Linked DNA regions of Homo sapiens: regions 1, 3 and 4 are each linked to region 2. Evidence: fine-mapped expression QTL. A gene starts in region 2. Each other region holds a variant in brackets. All regions are shown on one strand. Distances are between the middles of the regions.

Evidence for each region.
Region 1: its variant is fine-mapped to the expression of SFMBT2 in whole blood (INTERVAL, PIP 0.99).
Region 3: its variant is fine-mapped to the expression of SFMBT2 in whole blood (TOPMed, PIP above 0.99).
Region 4: its variant is fine-mapped to the expression of SFMBT2 in whole blood (TOPMed, PIP above 0.99).

The regions. Positions count from the first base shown.
Region 1 is chr10:7,479,809-7,486,887 of GRCh38, reverse strand. It overlaps the pseudogene RNU6-535P. Among named protein-coding and RNA genes, the nearest start is that of LINC02642, 10 kb to the right of the region's middle. RefSeq lists an enhancer at 5,792-6,031. The variant A/G (reference allele first, on the strand shown) is at 2,772.
Region 2 is chr10:7,406,175-7,413,698 of GRCh38, reverse strand. It overlaps SFMBT2 (Scm like with four mbt domains 2), which reads left to right and starts at 2,665. Exons shown (of 21, transcript NM_001387889.1): 1 at 2,665-2,838. RefSeq lists enhancers at 576-1,495, 1,496-2,416, 4,768-4,847, 4,895-5,790 and silencers at 2,652-2,791, 5,008-5,347.
Region 3 is chr10:7,505,123-7,512,695 of GRCh38, reverse strand. No RefSeq gene overlaps it. Among named protein-coding and RNA genes, the nearest start is that of LINC02642, 36 kb to the right of the region's middle. The variant T/C (reference allele first, on the strand shown) is at 4,809.
Region 4 is chr10:7,185,728-7,192,954 of GRCh38, reverse strand. SFMBT2 (Scm like with four mbt domains 2) reads left to right here. Exons shown (of 21, transcript NM_001387889.1): 16 at 4,222-4,331. It overlaps SNORD129 (small nucleolar RNA, C/D box 129), which reads left to right and starts at 6,171; the gene lies at 6,171-6,275. The variant C/A (reference allele first, on the strand shown) is at 4,393.

The DNA.
Region 1 (7,079 bases), 73 kb before region 2:
AATAAAAGGTATCCATTTAAATGACATTTTGATTTGTATCTGTGCAATCTCAGCCACAATTAATATATAAATGATGGGGTGCTCCCTCCAGCAGCACATATACTAAAATTGCAGAGATACAGGGAAGATTAGCATGACTACCGTGCAAGGATGACTTGCAAATTCATGATGCGTTCCGTATTTTTAGTAACTCAGCAACGGAAAGTCAGATACTGCATGTTCTCACTAAACAATAGGTACACATGGACAGACAGAGTGAAGAATAGACATTGGAAACTCCAAAAAGTGGGAAGTTGGGAGGGGCGTGAGGGATGAGAAATAACCTATTGGGTACAATTTATACCGTTCAGGTGATGGTTACGCTAAAAGCACAGACTTCACCACTATGCAGTCTATCCAAGTAACTAAAATGCATTTGTACCCGCTAAATCCATAAAAATAAAATAAAGGTGTAGATGATGGCGCATTTCCACCATCGCAAGTTCCTTTCACCCTGTCTCTAGGGATGCCCATTCCCAGCCCCGGGCAGCCCTTCCTCACTTTCTGTTTCTTTAGATTCGATGTGCCTTTTCTAGAGTTTCACAGACATGAGCTAGAATGCCTAGGATGGACTCTTTTGTGTTGGGATTCTTTCCAATGCATCTGAGTTTCATCCCAATTCCTGTGTGTGGCGTACCGTTCCTTTTATTACCGATTAGTAACCTATTAGGTGCGTTTGCCATCATTTGTTTGTCTAGGATAGAACGCTTTGGCAAACCTTTGGATAGCTGAATTTTTAAAAAGATTTCTAAAGTCTTTTGACTACGAGCTCTTCCCCCTACCAGGCAAACTCTCTGATGGTCAATTATCAGAAAGGAGCCGGTGACTGACAGCGGAGTCTGCTGCTTCCGGGTAACCCAGCTTGGTTGCTTAGCAACAAACAGAAGAAGTGTATTAGTTTAGTGGATTCTGAACAAAAAGGTAATCATCTTTTATCCCCAGATAGACAGGAGACGATGTTATTCCGAGTGAAGTGGGGGAAAAATAAAAACCGTAAAAATGGAAAGAAAACACATCTTGTAAATAACCACGATGACGCCTTCCGTAGGCACACCAAGTGTGCTGTGAAGACCAAGAAATCCCTGTTTAGACAAAATACCATGGTGTTAGGTGCTGCTGTGCAAAATAGTTTAAAATTTGCAAATAACTGATACCAGACATTAATAACTCATGACAGAGATAAAGAGAAACAGGTTAACCTTCATTAGCATGAATTCTGCAAAGGATCCATCTGAGATGAGGAAGAAACCTCGTCCCCTCTCCATGCCCCTTCAGAATGGAAGGCTAGAACTCCGGTAGATGTTATTCTTCCTCTCGCTGAATTGAGTAATTGTTTTCCGTAGTAAATGTGATTGACTTGTGTTTGTTCACTGGATTCCTTAATCTCAAAAAGAATGGCATCCATTTTGCAGGCAATGATGCTGACGGAAGTTATTTTTTTTTTTTTAAACTTCCTCGGGAGTTTTGCCAACTTGCGATGGCTACTTCCTTCTCATTATCGGCACCTCCTTCCCAGCACCCAACAATATCATCTAGCAGAAATAGCTCTGCTAAGAATCACTGATTTAACGAGTAGACTGTCCTTCAGCCATTGAATGCGAAGTGTTTAATAATCAATCAGAGATCGGGTTCACTTAGGTTTACGGGGTTGAAAGGGAGACAAAAACCCTTCACCATCACTTCTCAGCCAGTCCTGGAGCCGCTCTCCACTTCCCTCCTGATGACAGGTTTCTGGGTTTAAATCATGCCCCCAGGGAATGGATGTGAAACTGTGGTCCTGCAGTTTGCTGTCAGTGCCTGGGTATCCTGTAAAAGACAGCTTTGCAGTTTCATTTATTGGAGGGGCAAAGTTGACTGCCAAATAATTGGGTTGAGACTCCCCCAACTCCCCCTTACTTTTCTTGGGATTGTAGGGACCACTTCTCCCCATAAACATATTAAATTGCAGCCTTCCAGAGGAAAGAGATAGAGGAACACATCTTTCAGAGCTGCTATTTTTTTAAATTTATTTTCAGACTAATTAAAAATGTTCTGGTCTTTTCTGGTTTTGAATTGTAAAGACGTGCGCTTGTCCTCTGCATTGTGTGTGTGTGAGAGCACACCGAGACAGAGGAACAGGAAGGCAGAGTCTGCAAAAAACCTTGCAAAACCAAAACACATCCTGGGGCCCCACACAATTAGTGAAAATCTTGCTGCTACTGTAGAGCCGAGGTGTAAAAACTTTGAGCTGCTAAGTGCTTGCAGCATTGTGCTCTCTGCTTGTGACATTTTGTGGCCGTGGTTTCTGCTCAGGTGAGATTTATCAGTTCAAAGAATAGACTCAATGGAAAAGTACGGCTTTGCACATAAACAGACTGTCGTTCACAACCACCACGTTGACGGCAGTTTACTGAAATTAATTCTCCTTTGAGTTAAAAGACTTAAAGCTCCCAAAGAATGTGTCCATGTTTATATATTTTAAAATATATAAAAGAAAAGCCAAATCACTTACCACTTAATTTCTAAGTTAGTGTTTCTGAGGGATGGAAAAAAAATAACTAAAAGTTTTGGACCAGAGAATTTTTTTTTAATTTTTTATTTATTTTATTTTATTTTTTTAAATTCAGATTTGGGGTCAGCAGTGGCACTGAGGTTTTGGTTGGATTCCATCTCATCCTTTTTTTCTCTGAGTTTTGTTTTCTTTTTTCCTCTCTGCTATAACTCTCTGGTGAAATGGCAAGGAACTAACAGTG[A/G]TAAGAAAAAGTGAGAAACAGATCCGTGTAGCAGTAATGACGGAAACTAAAAAGCGACTGCACCCCTGAGACATACGCCAATTACAACACAGAGAAATACGATGCCATGACATCTGTTGGGCCTGTTGTTTACCAAGTCGAGGTGGCAAATATTTGTTGGGCATCTCCTATGCGTAATGCATCCTAGACGCCTATTCACGGACCTCAAGACATTTCTAGTAGAGATAACTTATTCTGAACAGCAATTCTCAAAAAACTTCAAGGATCCTCCAAGAAGAGTTATTTGAGTCAGAGGGTATCAGGGAACCAACAGGGCGTGAATGAGATGCGTGGGGAGTGGCTCAGGTCAGGGCCTGGGGATGACATGGGGCAGGAGAGCCATCCTTTTCAGAGTGGTCACTAGAAAGGTTTCATCATGGTTGTGAGGATTTGCTGCCACACTAGGAGGAGACTAGTCCAGGGCCCATGGCTCTGCCATCATGGAGTGTCTGGTCTGGGATGTGGATGAACCGTAGACATTGTTCCTGATGGTTACGAAGACAGAGATTGGGGGTTGAGGAAAGAGCGTGGAGGTAAAACAAATAGTTGCTAGTAGAGAATATGGGAACGCAGCAGGCTATATGCAGGGGAGTGTTGAGACCTCACCCCACCTGTTCAGAGTGGAGTTGAGCAGTGAGTGGGTAACGGGCCGATGAAGGCTGGTCAGGGTGTCCTTGTACACAGGGGCTGGGCTCTGACCAGGTGGTGTGAAAGCCAATAACTGTCATGTACTCGAAATGTCAGCCTCGGCCGAGCCCACCTAAGGTGCTCAGACATTTCCAAAGCATTTTCTGTGGGCTGCACCGGACCGGCTTCAAGTCTCCACAACCCCGACCACACTGGGGCAGAGATATCTTCCAGTGCAATCTGAGGCCTGAGACAGAAAGTGGCTTCTTGAGCTCACAGATGGCTAAGATTGGAGCCAGGACTCTCCAGCCCAGATATTTTAACTCTCCCTCCACCCTGCCCAGCAGTCCCCACAGTCTCAGAACTTCTCACCATCCACAGATATGCAAAAGCACCTTCCAAAACCAACCCCGGGGAAGATCTGACTCTGGATTTGGCGAAACAACCTTGAGATGTTGGGAAGTTCAGGGTTTCTCCACCTCGGCACTATTGGCGCTTGGGGCTGGATGATTCTCTGTTGCAGGGGGCTTTTCTGCTACCCACTAGATGCCAGTGGCACACCCCTTCCCCCGAGCTGTGACAACCCAAATTACTTCCAGACATTGCGAACAATCTCCCAAGGAGGCAAAATCACCCGTGGTTGGAAACCACTGCTGTGGTGTGTCTGTAAATATGGTGGTGTTTGTCCCCACCCTGTGTGACAGGTGTCCCCAAGGCCAGGATGAAGCTGCTGAGGCCAGGGTGAGCTAAGAGGGGGTGAGAAGAAGCAGCCTGAGTCTGGTGTCACACAGGACTGAGGAAGTCCAAAGAACAGGCTTTTTGTCCTGGTCCTGATGGCCATGGAAAAAAAATCACTTGATCTGTCCCACCATGCTGTTCCTCACGTCTATTGCATTGAGATAACTTCTATTTTATTGATTGTAGATATGGGGTCTTGCTCTGTTGCCTAGGCTGGTCTCAAACTTCTAGCCTCAAGTGATCCTCCCTCCTCAGCCTCCTAAAGTGCTGGGATTACAGGTGTGAGCCACAGAGCCTGCCTGAATTGAGATCAGTATTTTTTTTTTTTTTTTGAGATGGAGTTTTGCTCTTGTTGTCCAAGCTGGAGTCAATGGCGTGATCTCGGCTCACTACAACCTCCACTTCCCAGGTTCAAGGAATTCTCCTGCTTCAACCTCCTGAGTAGCTGGGATTACAGGTACACGCCACCATGTCCGGCTAATTTTTTGTATTTTTAGTAGAAATGGGGTTTCACCATGTTAGCCAGGATGGTCTCTATCTCCTGACCTCAGGTGATCCACCCGCCTCAGCCTCCCAAAGTGCTGGGATTACAGGCGTGAGCCACCGTGTCCAGCCGAGATCAGTTTTAATTCTCACATTCTACTGCAAAGGTAAAATGGTCTTGGGCTGCAGTTCTCTGTTTTGAGACACCAGACAGGTGAAAAGGCAGTAAAGTCCCTGGACTCTCATCACCAGTTGGCTGGAGACCCAGGGTATGAGCCCAGAAGGAAGGAATAACAGCAGAGGCTGGAAAGTGAGCCAGTGAGTGGGGCTGTGTATGTCAGAGCTTCCTGCCATCTCTCCTCTTCTTCCTCTTCATCCCCTTTCCTTCCCTTTCCCTCTTCTTTCATTCATTAACTGGTGAGACAACCAGCCAGCATTGCCGAGAGAAACAGGGAGACTGTGACGATCCACAGGGTGCGGTATCATGTTTGTATTCCACATAGTCAGTATGATTCAAAGATCCAAAAGTTTGACCCAGCATGTTGGACAGGCACATACACAACATACATGCATGCACACGCGTATATTTCTAGTAATTATCCACAGGAAGTAGTGAGTCCACAATGCCAAGAATTTCTCCTTTTCAGTGGCTATTTGTGATGAGAAGCAATGTGCATTCCACTGCATTCTAGCATCAGATTATGGGAGGGGAATGTGGTCATCGAAGGCATGTCCTCTTTCCTATAAAGATTTCATTCAAATAGAGTTCTGCATCTGATAGTAAAAACAAACAAACAAACAAACAAACAAAAAAACAGAGGACAATTTCTTCGCCAATGAAAATGGCCCCCTATGAAGGCATAGGAGCCTATTTCAAATAAGGATTAGGAAAAATTCAACAAGGGAAATGATGCTTTGAGTATGTTAACTTGCAAAAGGAAGAACCCTATTTCCTCTTTTCTAAGAGGAAGACAACTACTTTTGCTTTGATCAGAGTGCCGCTTGAGTGGCCAGAACTGACAAGGTTGGCAGAAGCGATGAGCTGAGAATTAAGGGCAGCGTCTGGGCCTGTGGGAGGTGCCATATGTGGGCTCACATCCACTGAACCTTGATCTCCTTTGCACACCTCCATGTAATTTATAAATCAGCAGTATTCACTCTGCCAAGAGGAAGTCTACAAAAAAGAGATGTGCTTGGCGCTCCTGGAAATGCTTTTACTTTGGGGAAAAAGCAGAGTGTACACTTTGAATGGAAATAAGCAGGCTGAAGCCACAGAGGCCATTTATATGCAGCACCGGGATGCAGACAGGAGAGCGGAGCCCTCCTTAAAGGCGCAGATCGCTGAGAAGGCTCATCTCTCTCCATGCTTAAGAGGCCTGACTAGGCTTGGGTCTTGTTTGATAACCAGGGCATAACATTTAAACATACTTACAAAAATTCTTCCATAAAATCAATTCATAAAAACTTCTAACTCTGAAGCAAAGTGTTAAAATAGGTACTGGGTTACCCGCAAGGATTGTTGTCAGAATAAAATGAAAGGACCTAAAAAGTTAGCATACCAGTTGAAGCCATTCTTACTAAGACATGCATTGTATGCTTGAATAGATAGAATTCAGAGCTAAAATCTAAACTTTGGCCGTCTGAACACTGCCCATCAGGATCAGCCACAAGAGCCCCCCCTCAATTACAAAGCTGGTCCTCACCACCTAGTTCATGTTGGATTTTGATCCTTCTCAGTGTCTTCACTTATTCTTGTTATTTCCAACATCATGTTTTCCAAATCCCAACTTCTTCCCTCACTGGCTGTGTGACCATGGGAAGTTACTAGACCTCTCTGAGCTTTTGTTTCCTCATCTGTAGAATGGGGTAACAGTACCACCTTCAGTTACAGAACACCCCACATCAGCTGGTTTGCAACATGCCCTTGATTTCCCCTGGTTTCTCTCTCGCCTTTTACTCCCATCCCCACCCTTTCCCATCCCGGGTCCCTGCTACATCTCATGACTGAACAACTCTTGCAACCCACGGGGCATAATTTTGCTCCTCTCTCTAGCCACAAGACAAAAAAAATGATAATAAGACTAATCATGTGAATTCGAGGCTCTATGCAGCGTCCATAGCCCACAATTCAGACTCTCCAGGGATGTTTCTGAATAGGAACCCCACAATTCGCCAGATGACAACACGTCACATCCAAATAACCCCTCTTCTTGCTTCGCCACACCAACAAATGGGGTCGTATAAATTTGGAGAGCTAGAGTAGATTTTCTCTCATCACTGCCTCTCTGCAGTTTTATCCACAGGAAAAAGAGAAACAGTTGAGTCTTGGCTACGTGAATTAATATCTCCTGTCTTATTTTTTTTCGTCGTACTTTTTTTTGTTTTCTTTCTTTTTCTTTATCGTTGTTTTTTTGTTTTGTT
Region 2 (7,524 bases):
ACAAAAATAGGAGGGAAGGAGTTTTTTTTTACAATAACAATGCCACCTTTGTGTGCTGCGACTTCCTGATTATATTTCTTAATCACGATAGGTAACCCTCCCCCAAAATCACCATTTTGTGGACCCAGGAGCAAAATTATACGGGGTCTACGTACCCAAAACATTAAAAAAATTCAACTCCTTCGGAGTAACCAGGTAAGATAATGAACGCAGTCATACACTGTTTGGGATCAGGTGTTCTTCTGCATTTGCTTTTATTTGGATGAAAGAATGTTTCGTGCACAATGATGACCTAAAACTGGTAAACAAGCCTGGAGAGAGCGCGGTGGCTGGTTGCAGCTCACGTCTCCACGACTCCTGCAGAAGGAAATTACGTTCTCCCCTTCCCCCCCGCACCCCTACCCCTACCCCAAGCCCCCGGGAAGCCCTGCGCTGGCACCAGGGCAAGCGCCTGTCGGCTCCCGGGAGCTAAGCGAGGCCGCGCGGTCTGGGACGCAAATGGGAGGGAGCAGCCGCTGTCGCCCTGCGGGGCCAGGGCCACTGGGTAGGCGCAGCGCGGGCCAAGAGTGGGAGGCTCAGGGCAGGGGATCCGCACTCGGGGCCATTCCTGCCGCGGCGCGCCCTGCGCTTCAGCAGTGCACAGGGTGGGGACCCCTCGAGGACAGTGGTGCGCCGACGGGTCTCTCGGCCCCTCCCTTTCCACAGGCCCCGCTGTGTGGTGAAGGAGCCAGAAGAGGCGACTTGGGTGTTGAGACCCGGGGCCAAACCGTGGAGAGTGTCTGGAGCCCACACTCCAGATTTCTGGACGCCGCAGTCAGTCCAGCAGGTTCTACCTGGAGCCGCCTCGGGGCTCAACCGGGAGGCAGCGGGGTGCAGGCGAGAGGGTTAATGCGCCCGGTTCGGTTGGTTTGAGGAGTCTCTGCTTTCAGCGACCCACAGGGCAGAGAGCCCAGGGCTCCGGCTTGATGTCCCCAACAGCTGGGGACTGGAGAGCTGGAGGGGTCGCAGACTCAGGCTAGAGTTTAAAGTGCGCCGCGCGGCGAGTCGCTGGACTCTTCTGGGTCTCACGTGGCTCCTGTGTCACATGGAGTGACAGGCCGGCGGAAGGCGCTTTAGTCGTCGCCCAGCGTTCTCCAAGGTGTAAGGAGGCAGGATCTTCCCATACTGGCGGCGCAGGGGGCCTCACGGCTGCGGACGCCCGCCCTGGATCTCTCAGCTCGGCAGATCCTTTGGGTGGAGAGGCGCTCTCCAGGGTCGCGGCGAAGGAGAGCGGCTTCTCGGCACGTCCCTCCGTATTTCTTCTAGATCAGCTCCGGCCCCACCGTCCAGGAGAGGGCCCGCCTGAGGACCTCTGTCTGTGCCGCGCGTGGTCAGCCCCGGTCCCCTCACTCCATGGCTGGCCCCTAGCCCTTCAGAGCGGACACCTCTCCTTAGGGATGCAGGGCGAGGAAGGGCGGGTGGAGCTGCGAACCCACGGGGACCTGGAGGACCTCTTGGCCCCCTGGAGAGGGGTACTATGAGAGGGATTCATGGGACACAGATTTGGGGGACTGGGTAATTTTACCCCCTTTGGCAACCATAAAAACCCTGAGCAAACGTGTCCATTCGCTATTTCGCAGAAATATACAATGCAGGCCCACACAGGCATCTCTGCGAGGCCCCCTAGTTAAGGGCGCAGCGTTCTTCGGAAGCTCTTGGTCTTGCTACCAGGGCGTCACCGGCTTTTCCGCACTGGGGACATTTCGTTTGGGCTCTGCGCAGCCGTTGCACCTAAGGCCCTGGGAGCTCCGCGTTCCTCCCCAGGCGCCCGGGACAAAGTGCCCGAGGGCTCCGCAGACGTCCAGCCCTGCCCGGGGCTCACGGCCGCCGGGGCTCTCCAACGGACCGTCGAGGGCCACGTTTTGCTGGGGTGTGAGCGACGATTCTTTTCCCGCCCTATGAGGCCCGCCACTAGCTAGGTGCCCCATGAGACGCCGTGGCGAGCACGGCTACCTGGCAGCTCGCCCGGGCAGCCCCAACTTAATTTCCTGCCCCTCGGGGCACCTTTCCCTCGAATAGCTCTCCTCGGCCCCTCCAGCCCTGCCCAAGGGGCCTGGAAATGTTCGCAGCTTCAAGAAAGGCTCTATTTAAGCACAGGATGGGGTGGGGCGGGCGGGGCCAAGATTGCCCTGGGGATTGAATTTATCTCCGCTCCCAGCGATCCCCGGCGGATAAAGCGCAAGTTTGTGCACACGGTCGACTGAGCCATTGGAAACCCAGCTCACGAACCGCAGCCAGGGAAACGGGAGTTTGCCCAGTTGTCCTTGCGGAGGGGTGTGCGGAAACGCCCGCGATGGGAACTTTCTGCAGATCATGTATGGAGGGAGCTCACAAAAAGGAGGAAGGGGAGCGCGGTGGGGAGGAGGCCGCGTGGGCGTGGAAGGTCCCAGGGTCCTGGGGGTGCCCGCCTGCTTAGGCGCAGGGAATGGCGCGGAGCTGGCTGGGGAAGGAGCCGATCACGTCCCGCAGGCTAATTGGCTTAAGAAATTTTGCAAGCGCTGGAAAAGGTCGTTGAAGGAGTTCGCTGCACGCGCACGCACACACATACACACACACACAAAATCTTAAAAAAAAAAAAAAAAAAAAAAAAAAAAGAGCGCCGAGCATGCGCACAGAGAGGATGCCATATTGGAATGAGCTGTAGTGGGAGCCGGAGGACCGGAGCGGGCGCGCGAGGGAGGCGGCGGGCGGGGAGCGAGCGGGCAAGGGCGGGCGAGCGAGCAAGCGAGCGAGGCCGGTGCCCTCCCGGGCGGCGACCGGGGCCTGGGTCCACGCCGAGGGCAGGACGAACTTCACCAGGTAGGACGCCGCGCCGGCTGCTGTCCCCGGCGCCCAGGCTGGCCGGAGAGCAGCCCTTCGGCCCGCAGGTTGAGTGCGCTGGTCAGGGGCTTTTTCCAGCCTAGGAAAAAAAAGGAAAAAAAAAAAAAGGAAGGAAGCCTGAGGGAGCTGGGGTTGGAGGTGGCGGGTGGGGGAAGGCTGGGGAGGGTGCAGGGGAGCGAAAGAGAAGGGCAGGAGAAGAAAGCGACTGCACTTGAGCGAAGCTTCAAACTCCTCTGTGCGCTCCAGGTTGTCATTTTTGCTTCCCGGGTCCCCTTCGCCTGCGTCTCCGGGCTCGGAAAAGCCGAGCCGTGCGGGAGTCCGTCCGGAGTTGCAAAGTGTCCTCCTTCCCCGGGCGCAGCCTGTCCCCTCCCGCCGCCCACCTTCCTCGTTTCTGCACTCATTTTAGCGACGCAGCCGCCGCTGCTACCTACCCCGCGCTCCCGCGTCTCCTCCGCGCTGGGGTCTCCCCTTTCTTTTGGTTTGGGTGGGAGAAAAAGATGGTGAGGACGGGGAATCGGAGACCGGCATGGGGGTAAAAATCGTGCAGACATTCGGAATCGCTCCCTTGGAAACATTTGCCTGAGCAACTGAAATAAAATTGGCAGTAGTAGTTTTGGAGCGTGCTCCAGCGAGGATGGTCTTTTTGTTCATTATTTTCTCTTTAAAGTAATATCCTGTCACTTAGGGGCTTTCCGGTTGTCTCCTCTTATTCGACCCCCTTTCAAAATTGCTGACTTGAGCTGGTTCTGGAGTTTATTTTTTAATATGCGTGCGTGGGTATGTGTATGTGTGTGTATGTTTTGCAGAAATCCGCCAAAATGCAACTGTAGGAACTGCGAGATGTATTTATTGATTTTGACCAGGGGCGGTGGGAAGGGGCTGGAGGGAGCTGGGGGATCCTGGAGGGTGGGAAGTGGCTGATTCTCGGTGGCCGGACACTCATCCAGAGCCTGATCCGTACTCGTGTTTTCTTGGAAGCGCCACAACTGCGGGGAAGGAGTCTTTAGAAACCGTGCCAGTTTCAATATGGCGGGCTAAGGTGGCTTTTAAAAACTGAAAATAAAGGTTTTGAGGTGGGAAAAAACCCAGCTGAAGTTTCCACCCCTTAGTTTCGACTCTCTTTGGCTACCCCAGGAAGCGCTTTAGCGAATTAAGTGGGGAAAAAAAGAAGGAATGGGCTGTCCGGTTTTTTTTTTCCGTGGTTAGAGTCTGTGTGTCAAGTCCATTGCTAGGGGGGAAAGGGATGGAGAAGTGCCCCTGGCCCGGACCAGGGCACCGAAACGCAACTGTCGTGTGTGCCTGTGGATTAGTGTGCAGGCCTGCGTGTGCGCAGTTTTTTTGGGTGTGTGTGTCAAAGAGAACCACCCCGAATGTGTGTGTGCGTCTTGGAACCAGACCCTGCCATGATTTGACGTGACAAACTGCGGACACGTGGTGTAAAGTACATGAGGGCAGAGGGAGTGATTTATTTTGTCTTTCTAGGAGACGAGCTAGCTCTCGCCTTGTGTGTGCTGGATCCTGCGCGGGTAGATCCCCGAGTAGGTGGGGCGAGGAGGTGCTTATTAAAAGGACTAACTGTCCCGGGTATTGGGTGCAATCGGGCTGCAGACGCCAGCCGGATTTCGTGTGTGCAGGGGGCGCGCTGCACTTAATAGTGGGCTCCTGCTTTCCTCCACGCCGCTCTGGGGTGGGAGGTGGGGGACCGGGACCGAAGCTTGGAGAAGACCAAAGTGGTGGTGGTGGTGGTGGGGTGGGGCAGAAGGGCGGGAGCGCGCGGCTCTGGGAGACAAGCACGTAGGGTCGAGGCGAGGGGTTGCCTTCCTTACTTTTGGGTTTCGCGCTCTAGGGAAGGTGGGGGATGGGGACAGCGTTTGGGGAAGAAATTGTCCCTTGCTCGGCTTAGGAACCCTCTCGGCGCATCGGAGAGGGGCATCTTCTTGTCTTGGCGGGCATGGAGGCCGGGCAGTCGCCGGGGGATGTGAGTGGGCGGCGAAGTGCGGGGGAAAGGTCGGCGTTCCAGGGCGGGGAGGATCTGGGAGTGGAGTTCGGAGACAAAATCGGGGTCAGGCAGAGGAGCCAGAGGGAAAGCCAGCAAACGCGAGCTCGGGTGAGAGCCACCGGAATGCGGGAACGCAGCTTAGCCGGGAACAGGGTTCCCGACAGGGGTCGCCCGTGGCCAGGACGCGGCCGCTGAACAGAGGTCGCGCGGCGGTTCCTGCCCGAGGGACCTCGTGGGCGGGGGCCACACGGAGGCCGCGCACGGTCCCCGGGGCTGGCGGGGGCAGGTGGGAGGACCTCCTCCGGGCCCGCGAACCTGATCTGGCAGCGGCCAGGTGCCTGGAAGCGTTTTTAAATGATAGGGTTACAAAGACATGTTGGCCAGGTTTGTAGTTAGCGCAGCAACGTGGTTTGCAGGAGCGCAGAACGAGGCTAGACAGGGTCACTCGGACGCCGTGCTGTCAGTGGGTGGGGGCCGGGAGCAAGCGGCACTGGCTTGGAGACCCCGCGGCAGGTGACCCCTCCCACCTGGGCAGCGAGGCTGAACGATGGCGACACGCCGGCCAGGACGCGTCCGTGGCTCCTCCAGCCTGCGTTTGGGCGCGCCCTCCCGGGGCCGGCTTTCCCATGGGCCCCGCGAGGTGGGGAGCAGCCTAAAATGGCTCTGTGCTGCGAAGCTGCAGTTTCAGCCGCGAACCCCTCCCCTTGTCCTCCTGACGTCGCCGCTGACAAGCGCAATTTGCTCCAAGGCCCCGAAACCCGCGATTTTGCACGAGGCCGTGCCGTGGAAGCGGATGTACAGTTGATTACAAAGAACATTCCACAGGGTTCTCGAAGGGCCCAAGTTTTTCCTTCTGGTGGGGAGGAGGGAGGAGCCGAGACTGGGCAGGAGCCCGGCCGACCACCGCTCTGGCACCTAGGGGCTCGGGGCGCACCAGTAGCTGGGGCTGGGGACCTGGATGCGCGAAAAGCCGAGGGAGTTCCCGGGGACGCGGATGGGGACCATTCGGGGCAATAGCCACGGACACCGGTGCTCGTGGTTGATGGCGTTTGTGGTGTCCGAGAATCCCGGGACGACGCTGGAAAGCCTGGGAGACCGTTCTCAAACTTCTGGAGACCAGCTCGCAGTTTCGCTTTCGGAATTTTCAGGATCTTTGGGCCTTTAAAGTTGGGTGGGATTCCAAGAAGGCAAGGCGAGGCTCGTGGCCCTGACGATCGGCCGCCCGACTTCTCGCTCACCCCAGCCTTCTCTACCTTGTCTCCCTGAACCTTGCCGAACCGAGCCGGGTTTGGGGTTCCGGGGCCCCGCGCACCAACCCCAGCCGCGTCCTGAGGGCTCCCGCAGCACAGCCGCGGCTGATCCGAGGCCATTGGTGGGAAACCAATTTAGACGAGGCCGACCCCTCTTGGATCTGGCTCGGTTGCCGCTGCCCACCACTCTCCATCCCCCCTCCACTCTTGCACCGTAGAGAAGGGAACTGGGAGACCTACTAGCGTGTCTACACCAAGGGAAAGAACCCATGTTCCAGCAGGTCGGAGAAAAGGAGAAAACAGGCTTAAATGTGGCCTCGTTTCCTGGGGAGGCTGTTGGGGGTGGGGAGGGAGTTGAGCGGGTAAGTGGGGTGGGGGAGGGGAGAGGCGTTGTTGCTCAGCAGGAATTGTTCCCTAGGCCCGCCCTGGAGATAGGAGGTCTCCTGCTTTTTCCCTACTAAGCATTAAATTTGCACACACTCTGCTTTCTCCCTTCCATAAATAAATACCGTCTCAGATCTTATCTTTGCTCTTGCTGGGACCAAGCTGCCTGCCTGCAAGAGAGTGGGAGACACCCACGCACTTCTCCACTTCCCTCCCCCCCCGCCAACCCTCTAGGTCCCCACCAAAGAGTTTACTGCTTGCAGGACCCATTCTTGGGCCGGTGCAGAACACTGCCCCGAGCCGGGGGTCTCGCAGCCCCCATCCTGGAATAGAGAGTGGTCATCCACTCTGTTCTGATGTGTGTTGCTGTAGAAGTGCCGGTGGAGGCCTGCTGAGGTGGGAACTGTTTCCCATTTCCCATTGGGATACATCCATCCTGAACCTCAAACAGCAGGTCCTGCTGGAGATGCGTTTCAGTAATGATGGAAGTCATACATCGCAGAGTTTTTCCTCTTCCTGCGTTCTTGCAGACATTATAGACTATTTTTTTTAACATTGGTTGTTATAAATAACTGGCTTCACGATTCTTGACTTAAAAGTCAAGACTTTTAAAAAGCCAGAAAAGGTTCCTGACTCTTCCCTGTTTCGTTTTCATCATAAAGCTTTCCTGGGAGTACTAAACACTTATCCATTTTTCCATTGCTGCCCACTCTAGCTAAGGTGGCTTTTTTTTTTTTTTTTAACCACTGCCCCCAAAGGACTCCCACATTTGAGAAGAAATAGTGAGCGATGGAAGCATTGCTTTGAGCAGTAAGAAAATGAGGTTCTATGTAATTGATACAGGATACTTTTGGGATCTAAGAAGTCCGTAAAGGAAATTTACTCTCCCCAGGCCCTACACTTATGCCTAAAAATTTTTGTCAGATTATCAGAGTTTTCTTTTTCTTTTTCTTTTTTTAAATAATTTGAACAAAAATAGTTCACTGTGGGATTTGAATGACCTACAGTTCTAGTATACTAGGGTTGGACATT
Region 3 (7,573 bases), 99 kb before region 2:
CATGTTACCGCCTGAGCTCCACCTCCTGTCCCTGAGACCCTCTTCGACTTCCTGCCATGGAACAACACACGGGCTTGCAGCTGCGTCCCTCCTATTTCTTTCTTCCTTTCTGTGACAACGGACAAGTTGCCCTTATCCCTCTGAGGAAGCTGTCCACCTGCACCTCCTGCCTAATCAGCAGGAGCATTAGATTCCCACACAAGAGCAAACCCTATTTGTGAACTGCACATGTGAGTGGTCTAGGTTGTGCACTCCTTATGAGAATCTAATGCCTGTTGATCTGTTGCTGTCTCCCATCACCCCCAGATGGGACTGTCTAGTTGCAGGAAAACAAGCTCAGGGCTCCCACTGATTCTACATGATGATGAGTTGTATGATTATTTCATTATATATATTACAAGGTAATAACAGTAGAAATAAAGTGCACAATAAATGTAAAGCACTTGAATCATCCCGAAACCATCTCCCCTCCACTGTCTGTGGAAAAATTGTCTTCCACAAAACCAGTCCCTGGTGCCAAAAAGGTTGGGGACTGCTGTATTAAGGTGTGTGTTCTGTACTAAGAATTGTATTGAATACAAAGAATTAATGATATTGTCCCTGCCACCAAGAAACATAGTTGAGTGGGAGAGATAGTTATCTTTTCCAGTAGGAGAGAGAGGAGTTTGTGCTTCAAGTATCATGAAACATTCTATACTATGTGAGTGATAAAGGCAAGCACTGTCCTAGGCGTCTATGTGCAGCTGAAGTCACTGAGGAGTGAGTAGATGGTGTTCAAGACCTTGGAATAGGAGTAGATCTTGGAAACACGGCGAAGAGGCAGAACACAGAAGCAGAGCCAGGAGTGACGTGTGCCAGATGATTTTAATCAGTGGTACAGTCTGGGGAACCAATACTCTAGATTTTATCCCAGGACAGACCCAGAACATCAGACATAATTAGATCATGCCGTTTAGCCTTATCTGCAGAAAACAGCTTTTCCGGAACTGTGTGTTGGTGTTATGTCCTTTCTTGACTAAAGTGAAGGAAGTCTTCTGGAAAAAGGTATTTAAAAAATCAGAACACTGCACTAGTCTTTTCAGTAAATGTTACAGGAAAAACTGGACATCCACATGTTTTTTAGAAAAAGAATATAGACACAGACCATACATCCTGTGTGAAAGTAATTCAAAATGGATCATAGACCCTAAATGTAAAAGCAAAACCATAAAAAATAGGAGAAAATCTAGATGACCTTGGGTTTGGTGATGACATTTTAGATATAACACCAAAGGCATGATCTATGAAAGAAGTAACTGAGAAGCTGAATTTCATTAGAACTAAAACTTGTACTTTGAGAAAGACACTGTCAAAAGAATGAGAAGACAAGCCACAGACTGGGAGAAAACATAGCAAAAGTCACATCTAATAAAGAATCATTATCCAAAATATACAAAGAATTCTTATAATTCAACTATAAGAGAATAAAAAACCTGGTTAAAAATGGACAAAATATCTGAACAGACACCTCACCAAAGAAAGCACACAGATGGCAAAGAAACATATGAAAAGATGCTCCTCCTCATATATCATCATGGAAATACATATTAAACAACAGTGAGTTCCCACTACACACTATTATATTATACCTGTTAGAATGGCCAAAATCCAGAGCACTGACAACATAAATTGCTGGTGAGGAGGTGGAGCAACAGGAACTCTCATTCACTGCTGCTGGGAATGCAAAATGGTGCAGCCACTTTGGAGACAGTTTGGCAGTTTCTCACCAAGCTAAATATACAGTTACCATGGGATCCAGCAATTGTGCCCCTTCCTATTTGACACATCAGGAGCATCGCCATCTTGGACAAACACTGCCATTTTAAGTTCCCCTAAATCCAGCCCCAAAACATCAGCCTGATGGCTAATGTCAGCATGAACAGAAACATTTCAACCCTTAGAAAACCTGCTCCGACCAGAAACATGCCAACCCTGAGATAACCCCAACTCCAACCAGAGACATTCCAAACCTACAATAAAACTCTCCTTCATACAGAAACATTCTGAGCCTGTGATAAGCTCCCCCTCCCTAAAGCCCTTAAATACCCTTAGTCTGTAAGAGAGAGCACTCCTAACTGAAATTGGCCAGAAGCCCTTCTCAGGTTTATTCTCCAAAATAAATCTGTCTTTGACTATTGAGCCACTTTCTGTGTTTCTTCTTTCTTCAACTCTTACACTATTTACCCCAAGGAGTTGAAAATCTATGTCCATACAAAACCATGCACACCAATGTTTATGGCAGCTTTATTCATAATTGCCAAACTTGGAAGCAATCAAGATGTCCTTCTGTAAGTGCATGGATAAATAAACTATGGAACATCCAGACAGTGGAATATGATTCAGTGCTAAAAAAGGAATGAACTATCAAGCCATGAAAAGACATGAAGGAAACTTAAATACATATTACTAAGTGAAAGAAGCTCATCTGAAAAAGCTATATGCCATATGAATCCAACTATACGACATTCTGGAAAAGGCAAAACTATGGAGACAGTAAAAAGATCAGGGGTTGCCAGGAGCTGGTGTGTTAGTCTGTTCTCATGCTGCTAATAAAGACATACCTGAGACTGTGTAATTTATAAAGGACAGAGGTTTAACGGACTCATGGTTCCACATTGCTGGGTAGGCCTCACCATCATGGCATAAGGCAAAGGAGGAGCAAAGTCACATCTTACATGGTGGCAGGCAAGAGAGAGCTTGTGCAGGGGAACTCCCATTTATAAAACAATCAGATCTCATAAGACTTGTTCACTACCATGAGAAGACTGTTGGGGAAACTGCCCCCATGATTCAGTTATCTCTACCAGGCCTGCCCTTGATGCGTGGGGATTATTGCAACTCAGGGTGAGATTTGGGTGGGAACACAGCCAAACCATATCAGTTGGTGAGGAGGAGGGATGAATAGGGAGAGGATTTTCAGGGCAGTGAAACCACTGTGTGTGATACCATAATGGGGGATACATGTCCTTAGACATTTGTCCAAACCCATAGGATTTACAACACCAAGAGTGAATCATAGTGCAAACTGGCCTTTGGGTGATGGTGATGTGCCAATGTAGGTTCATTAATTGTAAAAAATGTGCCACCCTGGTAGGGACGTTGATAGTTGGAGGAGGCTGTGCATATGTGGAGGGAGGAGGTATAGGGAAAATCTCTGTACCCTCTTCTCAATTTTGCTGTGAACATAAAGCTGCTCTAAAAATAAGGTCTATTTTTAAGTAATAATCATAAAAATATAGAGGCTGAACGAATCATTGATTGAAGGCCTTGAGGGAGCAGCAACGGACAGAGCTGTAAACCTGTGGGCACAAGGTCTGTGTTTAATTCTCAAGCTGCCATTCACCAGCCTGCCAAGTTTTTAACCTCTCTGAGCCTGTTTGCCCATCTGTAAAAGGCGAATGAAAATCAATTCAAAGGAATTTTTTCTATGGATTAAACTACATAGAGGAGCTTTAATAAAGATTTGTTTAAAAACCACCTGGCTATGACTTCAATGTTGCAGTGTGGATGGGACCCTGTCCACCACGGGGCCTGGAGTCTCTCACTGGGAGGCCACGGCAGAAAGTCTTTAACTCCAGGACCAGAAAAATAAGCCTCTCTTCTGCAGTAACTTGTGCATTTTGTCGTGGTTGGCTAGACATTTCAACCACATAAACCCCTTGACCATGGAGAAGTGCAAATCCAAAATGAAGGCCAGTAACTCACATGACGTGACAGTCTGCACCTCTGGGCACTCACTTTCCTTTACTCCCTCCCTCCACTCTCACATGCATTTTTCTGATCTTTGTCTCTTCCCTCAGATCTTATTGGCTGCACTCTCGCCAGCCTCCACAGTTGGTTCTTCAGCTTCAGTGGGACCTGCCATCTTCTGAGACCTTTGCTTTCTTCTTATTTCTGAGTTCCTTCCTATCCTGGTTTCCTTCCACTTCCAGCATAGCTTCCATCATCAGCCACTTCCACTACCCTCTGCACCTCTCCCTGGCCCTTTGTTTCCCTGTCACACAGGACCCCGTGATGGAGCCTTCTTTCTACCTGCTCCTGCCTGGAGGGCTAAGGGCGCTGCAGAAGAGCCTGGCTGTGCAGTCTGGTGGAGGCTTCCTCCTCAGTGCCTGCATCCACGCTCAGCTTGCTCTCCCTCCACAGGCCTCCAGCCATGCCCCAAGCCTCTCTCTCCCTCCACAGGGCTCCAGCCATGCCCCGGGCCTCTCTCTCCCTCCACAGGCCTCCAGCCAGGCCTCGGCCCCCTCTTCCCCTCCACAGGGCTCCAGCCACACCCTGGGCCCCTTCTTTCCCTCCACAGGCCCCCAGCCATGCCCCGGGCCCCTCTCTCCCTCCACAGGCCTCCAGCTACATCCTGGGCCTCTCCTTCCCACCACAGGCCTCCAGCCACATCCTGGGCCTCTCCTTCCCCCCACAGGCCTCCAGCCACATCCTGGGCCTCTCCTTCCCTCCACAGGCCTCCAGCCACATCCTGGGCCTCTCCTTCCCTCCACAGGCCTCCAGCCACATCCTGGGCCTCTCCTTCCCGCCACAGGGCTCCAGCCAGGCCACAGCCTCCCTGCTCTTGGGTGACTGTCTTGATTTCTATTTTCCAGAGTAAATAAAGGCCCCGAGCCCCCTCGACTTCCTGCCACGGAACAACACCCAGGCTTGCAGCTGCATCCCTCCTATTTCCTTCTTCCTTTCTGTGACGACAGACAAGGTGTCCCACCCCCTCTGAGGAAGCCGTCCACCTGCACCTTCTGCCTCATCGAGAAGGGCCTCTCTTC[T/C]GAACTTCACATCTTTCATCTCCCAGCATCTTTCCATTATCTTTTAAAATGTTCAAGTTAAAATGTTCTTTTTTTTTTTTTTTTTTTTTTTGGCAGGGTCTCATTCTGTAGCCCAGGCTGGAGTGCAGTGGCGCCATCTTGACTCACTGCAGCCTCAAACTCCTTGGCTCAAGCAATCCTCCTGCCTCAGCCTCCCGAGTAGCTGGGACCACACGCATGCACCACCACACCGAGCTAATTTTTGTATTTTTTTAGAGACGGGGTTTTACCATGTTGCCCAGGCTGGTCTCGAACTCCTGTGCTCAAAGGATCTTCCTGCCTTAGCCTCTCAAAGTGCTGGGATTACAGGCATGAGCCACCGTGCCCAGCCTCTATTTTTTTTTTTTTTTAAATCTCCCTCAACCCAACTTCATCTTCTATCTACTTTCTGGAGTCTCTGCTCCACTTTGAAGTCACAATTTGCATGGGCTGCTCCTGCTACATCCTTCTTAGTCTGCCACAATCTGGCCCCCATCCCAAATCCCCCAACATCTGCCCCTCCACCTCAATGAAACTTCTCTTGCCCAGGTTATTATTATTTTGTTTGTTTGTTTGTTTTGAGATGGAGTCTCACTCTGTTGCCCAGGCTGGAGTGCAGTGGAGCAGTCTCAGCTCACTGCAACCTCTGCATCCTAAATTCAAGCGATTCTCCTGCCTCAGCCTTCTGAGTAGCTGGGATTACAGGTGCGTGGTACCATTCCCAGCTAATTTTTGTATTTTTAGTAGAGTTGGGTTTCACCACATTGGCCAAGCTGGTCTTGAATTCCTGACCTCAGGTGATCTGCCTGCCTCCACCTCCCAAAGTGCTGGGATTACAGGCATGAGCCTCTTGTCCAGGTTATAAACAACCACTTCATCACTTTCAGTCCTTGTCTTACCTTTCCTCTCAGTCAAATTTGTTCAACTTACTTTTCTTGTCAAAACATGATTTTCCCTTGGTTTCAGAGATAATACCCCTGCGTGGGATTTTAGCCCCCTAAGCCCCCCAGATGCTCATGTTTGGTAACCCATGTAGGCCTTCCTGCCTCTCTGTCCATCTGTTAAATATTGACCTCCTCCAGGGCCTATCTATTAATAAGTAACTCTTTTCATCCCACACACACTCAGAACTCATCAATACCAGAGCTTTAGGGACCATCCCAGCTCTCTCATGAACCCCACACTCTCGCTCCAGCTGCCGACCAGTTACTTCTGGTGGGATGTCCCACAGACCCCTCAACTGCACAAGTGCAATATCTACTCATCCCTTCTCTTCCCCAAATCTGTCCTTCTTTTCATGTTCCATATCTCAGCAAATGGCACCACCAGTTAATCTGCCTAAGCCAGAGACCTGGAAGTCATTCATGGTTGCTGTGTCTACTTCAGCACCCTCATCCAATTGACCAAAAGCCTGCCTGTCCTATCTCTGGACCATGTTTTAATCCATTCTCTTGTCCCCAGGTCCACTGCTCTTAGCTCCATGCAAGCAAGACTCCTGGTCTCCCCCCAACACCCCAGCTTTCCTCCCATCTCTCCATGATCACATTGGCCAGCAGGACCTTTATGAAATACAGAGGTAGTCATGCTGTTTCCTTGCTTAAAATACTCCAGTGGCTTTATGTTGCCCTTAGGACAGGAACCACTCCCTTTCCCATGGCCTGCAAACCTTTCATGGTCCATGTCCTGATTCCAGGCTCAGCCGTGGACCCCCGGCCTTAGGACGCACAATTTCCCCTGCTAGGCACAGCCTCTCCTTCTCTGTAGCCCGTCTTTGTGAGTTGAAAGGGATGTTGCTGAGCTAAACCTTCCTCCTGCAGGATCTGTTCTATGAAACTGTATGATGATCACAGAGGAAGTTTGATGATGAGGCTCCTAGAGAAGCAGATGCCTTGTAAGCTCTCCGTCACTAAGGGAAGGATAACCCCTCAGACGTCCTTTCTTCCTGGGGATTTAAACTGGTTATCATTGTAAGGATAATGCAAAGAAAAATGAACCTATTTGGGATGGTCAGATGAGTGATGCCTATTTGTGAAAATAAACACAGCCTGGGCGTGATTTGTCATGGACATCTGGTACAGACAAGAAGAAAAAAAGGAAAGGGGGAGAAAAGATGTCCGGAGAGAAGAAGGGGAAGGAGGGGAAGAGAGCAACCACCAGCTGAGGACCAGAGCCTTTCCCCTCCCCCTAGCAAGGATCAGAAACAAGGATCAAGTGCCCTGTCCATCCAGGGAGACTGAACCCACTGCCTCTGAGTAACATGTTCTCAGGGCAAAGAGTTTAAAAGAAAGAGGAGGAGATGAAGAAGAAAGAAGTGGAGAAGGAAGAAGACGAGAGGGAGAAGGAGGGGGAAGAGCAGGAGGAAGAGGAGGAGGGGAAAGAGGAGGAGAACAAAGAGGAAAAGAAGGAGACAAAAAAGGAGAGGAAGGAGGAAGAAGAGGAGCAGGATGAGAAGGAGGAGGTGGAGGTGGAAGAAGAAGAGGAAGAGGAAGAGGTGGAGGAAGAGAAAGGTGGAGGAGGAGGAAGAGGAAGAGGTGGAGGAGGAGGAGGTGGAAAAGGTGGAGGAGGAGGAGGAAAAGGGAGGAAGAGGAGGAAGACGAGGAGGCAAATGAGGAAGAGGAGGAGGCCTGTATTGGTAACTTCCTGAAATTTTTACTTGTTATACTGAAATCATTTTCCCAATAAATTTAAGTACCTTGATTCACCATAGGTAAGAATCAGACTAAGAACGATAAAAAGGAAGAAGTGGC
Region 4 (7,227 bases), 220 kb after region 2:
TCCACCCCGTTTGCTGAGATGCTGGTGAGACCAGGGCACTCAGCTGAGGTCCAAAGACTGGGTGTGAAGGCGTAGACCAGCAGAATCAAAGAAGTAGTGCGGCACCCCTGAACCAGAATGCGGTGTGCCCCGGACCCCCGGCCCTGAGTCAGAGACGCCCCACTGCAAATAGTGATGTGACCTCCGACCCCCAAAGGGCTCAGGTGACTCTGGCTCCTGGTCACCTGCAGTTTGGGATCTTTCCAGTGGGACCTGGCGGTTTGGGATTTGGCCTCAGCTGTTATTTACGGTTTCGATTTCTGCCCCTGTGGCTGATGCATTAAGCGATTTCCCTCCGTGTTTTTGTTTGGGGTGTCTGGTTCTCACATCTGGGGAGTCTGTCATGTGCTGTTTGAATTTCCCCTTCATTGTGGAGCTCTGAGCATTTGTCCTGGGCTATCACTCACAACAACATGTACCTAAAAACTAGAAAGCTTTCTGGTCGGAATCCTGAAAGTCGGCTGCCCCAAGCAGCCTTCAGTGTTCATAGACTTGGTGGTAGGAGAAGAGCTTTCATTCTTCGAAGCAGTCGTAAGTTTATCGGTAACACCCAGGGGAGGAGGTGTTGAGGGAGTAGGAATGACGATCTCGTATTGAGGACTTTTCCATGTGATATTGGACAGAGGGAATGTCTTACCCAGCTGACCTCAGCGAAGTCAGTCCTCGGAATCAAAGACAGATGCAGACAGGCCTCTTGAAGATACTGTGCTGTGTTTTTGTTGCTGCTGTTTTCAATTTATGCTGAACATTAGTTAACCCACTAAGAATAATGTGCCAGGCTTACGGGTGGGTGTGAACTTGAACACACTCACATGGTCTGGGGTGCTGAGGGAAGGTTGGCAAAGGAAAAGTGCACATTTTTTTTTTTGCATGTCAGGCTTTTCTTTATTATTTTCTCATAGAGAAGACAAGATAAATTTGATGAACTTTCTTATCATAGCATAGGATAAGATTTTGTAGCAATGAAAAGCAATAGCAAATGATAACTCCTGAGCCTCCATTCATGTAGATTATATGGCATCAAATACTTGGAGTGAATTTATTGTTAATTTTTAGATGAACAGAATAATTTAATTTCAGAGCCCATATTGAAATTATTGAACTAATTCAAAAAATATCTATAGAGCACCTACTCTTGCCAGTTATGGTTGTATCTGCCATGGATACAGCAGCAAACAGAATGAAGTCCCTGATTTCCTGCTGCTTATGTCTTAGTGGGGGTGGATGGTGAACAAATAAGCCAATTACGGAATAATCCTATACTAATAATAAGACAAGTTATCCATGAGAGGCCAGAGAATGAAGGGAGGAATGTGCTGTGTACAGAGGATACTCGCAGAGACCTTTCTGATACGGACTTTGGAGTAAAGACCCGGATGGGGAGGGATGGTCTGGAAGGGTTTCCCCAGGAAGAACAATCCTAAGAGAAGAACAGAGCAGAGGAAAGGCCTGATCTGACCTGTTGAAAGGATCGCCCTGGCGGTTGTTGGGAGGTGAGGCTCTCAGAGCGTGAGGTGGAAGACAGGGAAGCCCCTGCCGGCAGGGTGAGAATAGACCCAGAGCTGCCCAGCGTTTCGGCCATGTGCTCTCACCAGGCATCTGGATAAGACAGTTTCAGGGACATTGTGGACACAGAAAAGCCCCATTGGATTGGGTTCCAGAGAGGACTGAAGAAGAGGAAAAGGCGCTGTTGAGTGTAGACTCTTCTTAAGGATTTTACTGTAAAAGAGCTGAGAAATGAGGTGGGGGAATGTGTTAGTTCGTTTTCACATTGGTGATCAAGACATACCTGAGACTGGGCAATTTATAAAGGAAAAGAGGTTTAAGGGACTCACAGATCCACATGGCTGGGGAGGCCTCACAATCATGGCAGACGGCAAAAGGCACGTCTTACATGGCAGCAGACGAGAGAATGGGAGCCAAGCAAAAAGGGGAACTCCTTATAAAACCATCAGATCTCATGAGACTTATTCACTACCACGAGAACATTATGGGGGAAACCACCCCTACAATTCAATTACCTCCCACAAGGTTCCTCCCACAACACATGGGAATTATGGGAGCTACAATTCAAGGTGAGATTTGGGTGGGGTCACAGCCAAACCATATCAGTGGAGGAAGATGAGACACCTAAGGTCCTATTAGTTTGGGGGCAGGGGCAGGCTCCCTGCTACCCTCTCTGATCAAGCACATAATGAACTGAACTCCAGTGTTTTGCAAAGCACAATAATTCAGTCTAACTGTGGCTAGTCATAGCAGCTGTCCACTTAGTTATTTTCATTAGGTAACTATAATACATGACATTGTCATGTGCACAGAAATTATTCAGCTCACAATTCCAAAGTTTTATAGAGAGCTTGTTGAATTTGGAGACGGATGATGTGGCATCAAGAAAAGCCAAGGGAAAAACATTCAATATCCGATGCTTTTCATAATTTAATTGCTGCCTGCTCCCAGGCTGAATTGAACTCCAGAAGGCATTTTCTTTTCGCAGTCACAAAATGCATCTCGATATGCAGCAAATAACATGCAGCTCTGGGGTTTTCTCAGCGAAACCCAATGAAAAGAATCTGTTGAAATTTTATTGTCTGTTGATAAACACTGTGTGCGTTATTGCAGTCAGTACTAATTAGATTTATTTTTAAACTGAGTTTCTGTAAATTGTACTGACAGTAAACAATAAAATCAGATGATTATTCTAATACAGAAAACACAAACGCAACAAAACTGCCGGTACCGCCTTGTCATGGCTTTTTAGCACCTTGGCAAGCCACATTCTCTTGGTGGGTGGCTTTGAGGCCCTTGGAACATAGCAAGATGTTACCCAGGCAGAGAAAAGGCCGTCGCCGGGCTGACCGCGTAGTGTAAAGTATTTTAAGAGTGAATCCTTAGTTACAACTTGAGAAAGCTTTGTTGTTTTCAAATAAATCAGGGTGCAAACCAAGCTGGTTACGTTCCAGAACACAACAGACCCGTGAAAATTGTGACAAGCAAATTCCATCCACATTCTCCCATCTCCTTCCATTTATTTTGTAATAGTCTCCATTAAAAGATAGTGCGTGTTTAGGCACTAGTGCCAGACTCCCATCTCACTCAGGTGTATCTCTTGCTCTCCCAACGGTATTTTGCTCTGAAATCCAAAATGTGAGCTCCATGCCTGGCGTGCTCCTTCCAACTTCCGCACCCGGACGGCCTGCAGGAGGCATGGGCACTGCGTGCTCCCCCGTCTTGTTCCTGCTACTGTCACTCAGTGGAGCTTCACAGAGGATCATTTCATGAAACTCCACACCATAGGCCTCTGCTTTGCACTCTCACGTTCTGTAAGGTCTTTATCCAAACAGCAGCAGCCCAGGAATGTGCCAGAACTCATCAATGTTAATCATTAATGATGATTTGCTTTTTGAAAGGTGAGCACCTTAGGGGTCTGAGGTCCTTGTCCCTTTCATTAGAGAAACTCATTGAGGTTAACAGGAACATCGTATCTCCCCAGGGTCAGCAGCTGGAACTCTTAGAAATGCCTGCTCTTTCTGAGCCCCATGGTAGACACATGCTTGTTTTCTTGGACTTGGGAGTGAGGGGTGGATGGGGGAAATATGATACTGGATGGCGCTGGATATTCCAGACTCTCTTTTAAAATATTCACATTTCAGAGGGTTGCCCTAGTATTAAATGTCCATGAATTGAGCCTGCAAGAGGAGAGTTTCACACAATTTGTTACCCTCCTTGCAAGCATGTGAAGCCTCTCCAGAAGTGTTGGCATGAGTAGATTGTCTCCGTTTCATTAGTTCCTTATGAAATCTGTAAAAATAGAATGAAATTCTCAGTAGCCTATCCAACTGAAGAGTAATCCTGTTGAAGTACAATAAATTGCTCTTTGGTGAAAATGGTTCAGCTTTTCTGCAACTAGAAGAGTTAATGGGAGTCTGCCACCCCCTCTAGAGAGTGGTTCACACTTTTCTAGCCAGAGAGATTGTATTTTACCACGCTTTTTGTCCATGGATGGTGAAACAACTCAGTGTTAGCCTGGCAAGTGTTCTATCAGACTTAATCACGTTTCTTCACTTCATGTGGGTGTAGTGGCGAGCTGTTCCTAAATGTCAGTGGTGTGGTTTTCAAAGCATCCTTGTGTTAGTAGGAATGAATGCAATTGCAGCTCAGTCTGCTTATTTTTTTCCCCAAAAGGTTCTTAGCATGATAATCAACGCAGCCTACAAGCCTGGAAGGGTATTAAGAGAATTACAGCTGGTAGAAGATCCCCACTGGAATTTCCAGGAAGAGACGCTGAAGGCCAAGTAAGTGTTTTCAATTCTGGAAAGCAAGGGTTTTTGTAATACTTCCCCATGCTACTTTGAA[C/A]CTTGCCACTTCTCTTTGTGACACAGCCCTGAGAAATGGAACAAACTGAAGGACGTTCGTTCTGCAGTTCTATGGGCGACACGTAAATTTCTTGGCATTTTTGCCATACAGCGTTGCCTTAAGCCTTAGGATTCCTAAGGTGAAGTAGAGATTTCCTTAACTAATATTTTATTATGCTAAACATTCAGCATCATAAAAACTTGGTATGTTTCAGGACCAATAGGTTATTTGAGCAAAAGGGGGAAAATTGTAAAGAGGATATCCCTCATCATTATTATACTATGTTCATAAACAGCTCTTCATTTTTGATATTATATAGACTATGCTAAATGCAAATGCTCTCTTTTCTGGCAGTTGACAGTTCTCAAAGATAAAAGGAACCCGTGCATGTTTGGTCTGGGTTAAGTAAATGGCAGCAAAATCTGGGTTGGCGTGGAGTCAAGTAACTTTCTTTTATTTGGAAATAGGCTAATTGGAAAGGTGACATTTTTGCTTTCTTTAGGTTTCTTGACCTCTGAAATTGAGAGCAGGAGCCGTATCAATGTACTTGAACTTGGTTGTTTAGGCACATAGAAAAAGATCCGTTTCTAAGATAATTTTATGTTGAATAATTGTTTAGAGTGCTTGAGAGGACTTTTAATATTCATCTATGGGTTTCAAATAGAATAGGTTTTACTAGTTGACTTCTTAATGGTCATTGAGATGTAACATTTGAGAAATGATGTTTTTTTAAAAGAGTAAAACAGTTTTCAGTGGCTAGAGGATATCTAAGCCTCCTTTAGAGAAGGCACCTGCCCTATTCATAGTGAAAATTGAGAAATATGAAATAATTTGTATGATCGGTAATATTTTCCTCTATAGTTAACTTATACTAGTACTGTGACTGAAGATGTTTAGAGATTGTGCCACACTCAACATTCATTGCCAGCAATCCACTTAGCATTCCTGGTGTCATTTTTGAACAGCTCTGGGGTTTTAGATTCAGTAAAACTTATTTATGGTCTAATCATAATCTGCCAAATCACCAAAGTGGAAGAGAATATATGTAAATAAGAAGAGGGTTTATTTGCAGAAAATGGCAGGCCAATTAACGATGCTGCTACATTTCATCATTTCCTTCTTTCTCAAGAAATATTTAAGTGAGCTTCACCTATAGCTCAGAGAAAAACATGTTTTTCTAATATTTCATATTTTTCTGCTTTAAAGAGATCATTAGCAGTAGTGGCACATTTTCTTATAAGTTTGTAGTAGTAGTGGGGGCAGAAAACATAAGCAAGTGTTTATAATGGAGAAATCCTTCTTATTTTAAAACTTTTCTGCAAAATTCAATACAGTCCACGTACACCTAATGGACACAGATATAATAAAAGTACAAAAATCTTAGCTCCCATTAAAACCTTCCCTGCCTCTAAATAAGCCAGAAACTCGCTCCCGCTCCACAGTGAGAGGAAGTTCATTTTGCAAGTGTTTGCACTAGTTTTCATGTTACCAAGTCGATCAGAGCTTTTTATTAAATCCAGCCTGATACAATCAAAACAGACATGGTGAAACCCAGCTCTACTGAATTGTAAAGGCAGCATATTACCTATTATATCAAATATGACAAAAAGTTCCATGGCAAACTCTTACACAGCAACTTCTAATGAGAAAATGTCTGTCTGAACTGGGTTTCAACTGTGCGAGATCATAGCAGCGTCTCAAAGCAGCTGCTAATGATGACAGCTTTACAGTCAGCGGGAGCTCTCCTGCTCTGATACTGTGTGTTGAGTCACCTCTTCCCTTCTGATGTGAAATGACAACTTTTTAGATCTTGACAACTTTGCTATTTTCTTTGGTGCAAATGGGAGGAGAGAGAGCTGGCATCTTCCCATTTAGCTGAAAGGAAGGCATGTTTTCTGTCATGAATAAATTAACGTACAAGAGGAGAGACTCACATTCAAGACATTTGGTCCAGGCCAGGCGTGGTGGCTCATGACTGTAATCCCTGCACTTTGGGAAGCTGAAGCAGCAAATCGCTTGAGTCCAGGAATTCAAGACCAGCCTGGACAACATAGTAAGACCCTGTCTCTACAACAAATAAAATATTTTTATATATATATATATGTGTGTGTGTGTGTGTGTGTGTGTGTGTGTGTGTATATATAGTATGTATGTATGTGTATATGTATGTATATATATGTCATATATACATATGACATTCAGTCCTCTTGGTTGATTATGGGAGCTGTTGTACACAATTATAAAGACTGTTTTCAGGAAGAGAGGATGTGAGATTATCCCTAGGGCAGTGTGATTGCTCTCATTTGGCATCTAGGATTTCTGGTTGTTTTTTCCACCTCCTAAGAGTAAAGACCCATTTACTTGAGAGGATGAAGGTGTCTTTGTAGAGGTTTTGACTTGTAAATATAACGAAAACTTACACTGTTACCTACAATTGTCTCTGGGTGATTTTTCCCCTATTTATCCAACAACCGTACCTTTTATAGAAAGAAATTATTGCAATATTTGAACTTGTGAGGAGTCTATCATTATTACCTTCAACATGTATTGAAAAGCAAAAATTTGCTAGCTTTTATGCCAGGGAAAAAAAATGGCTTCTCATGTAGTTCATTTCTGTTCTGGAAGAGAAAATTTCTTTCTTGCCAATGAATTTAAATATGCTCAATTTACCTGCATTGTTTTGAATTACAGGAGGAGGAATTAGGCTATATCTTAGAGGGGTAAGGAAAAAAAAAGCCCTCCACCTCTCTGCATCTAGAGACATTTAAATATGTTTTTCAGCATGTTACAGAATCTTCTTGAGGGAAAATAAAAAGACTGTCTTAACTCTTCTTT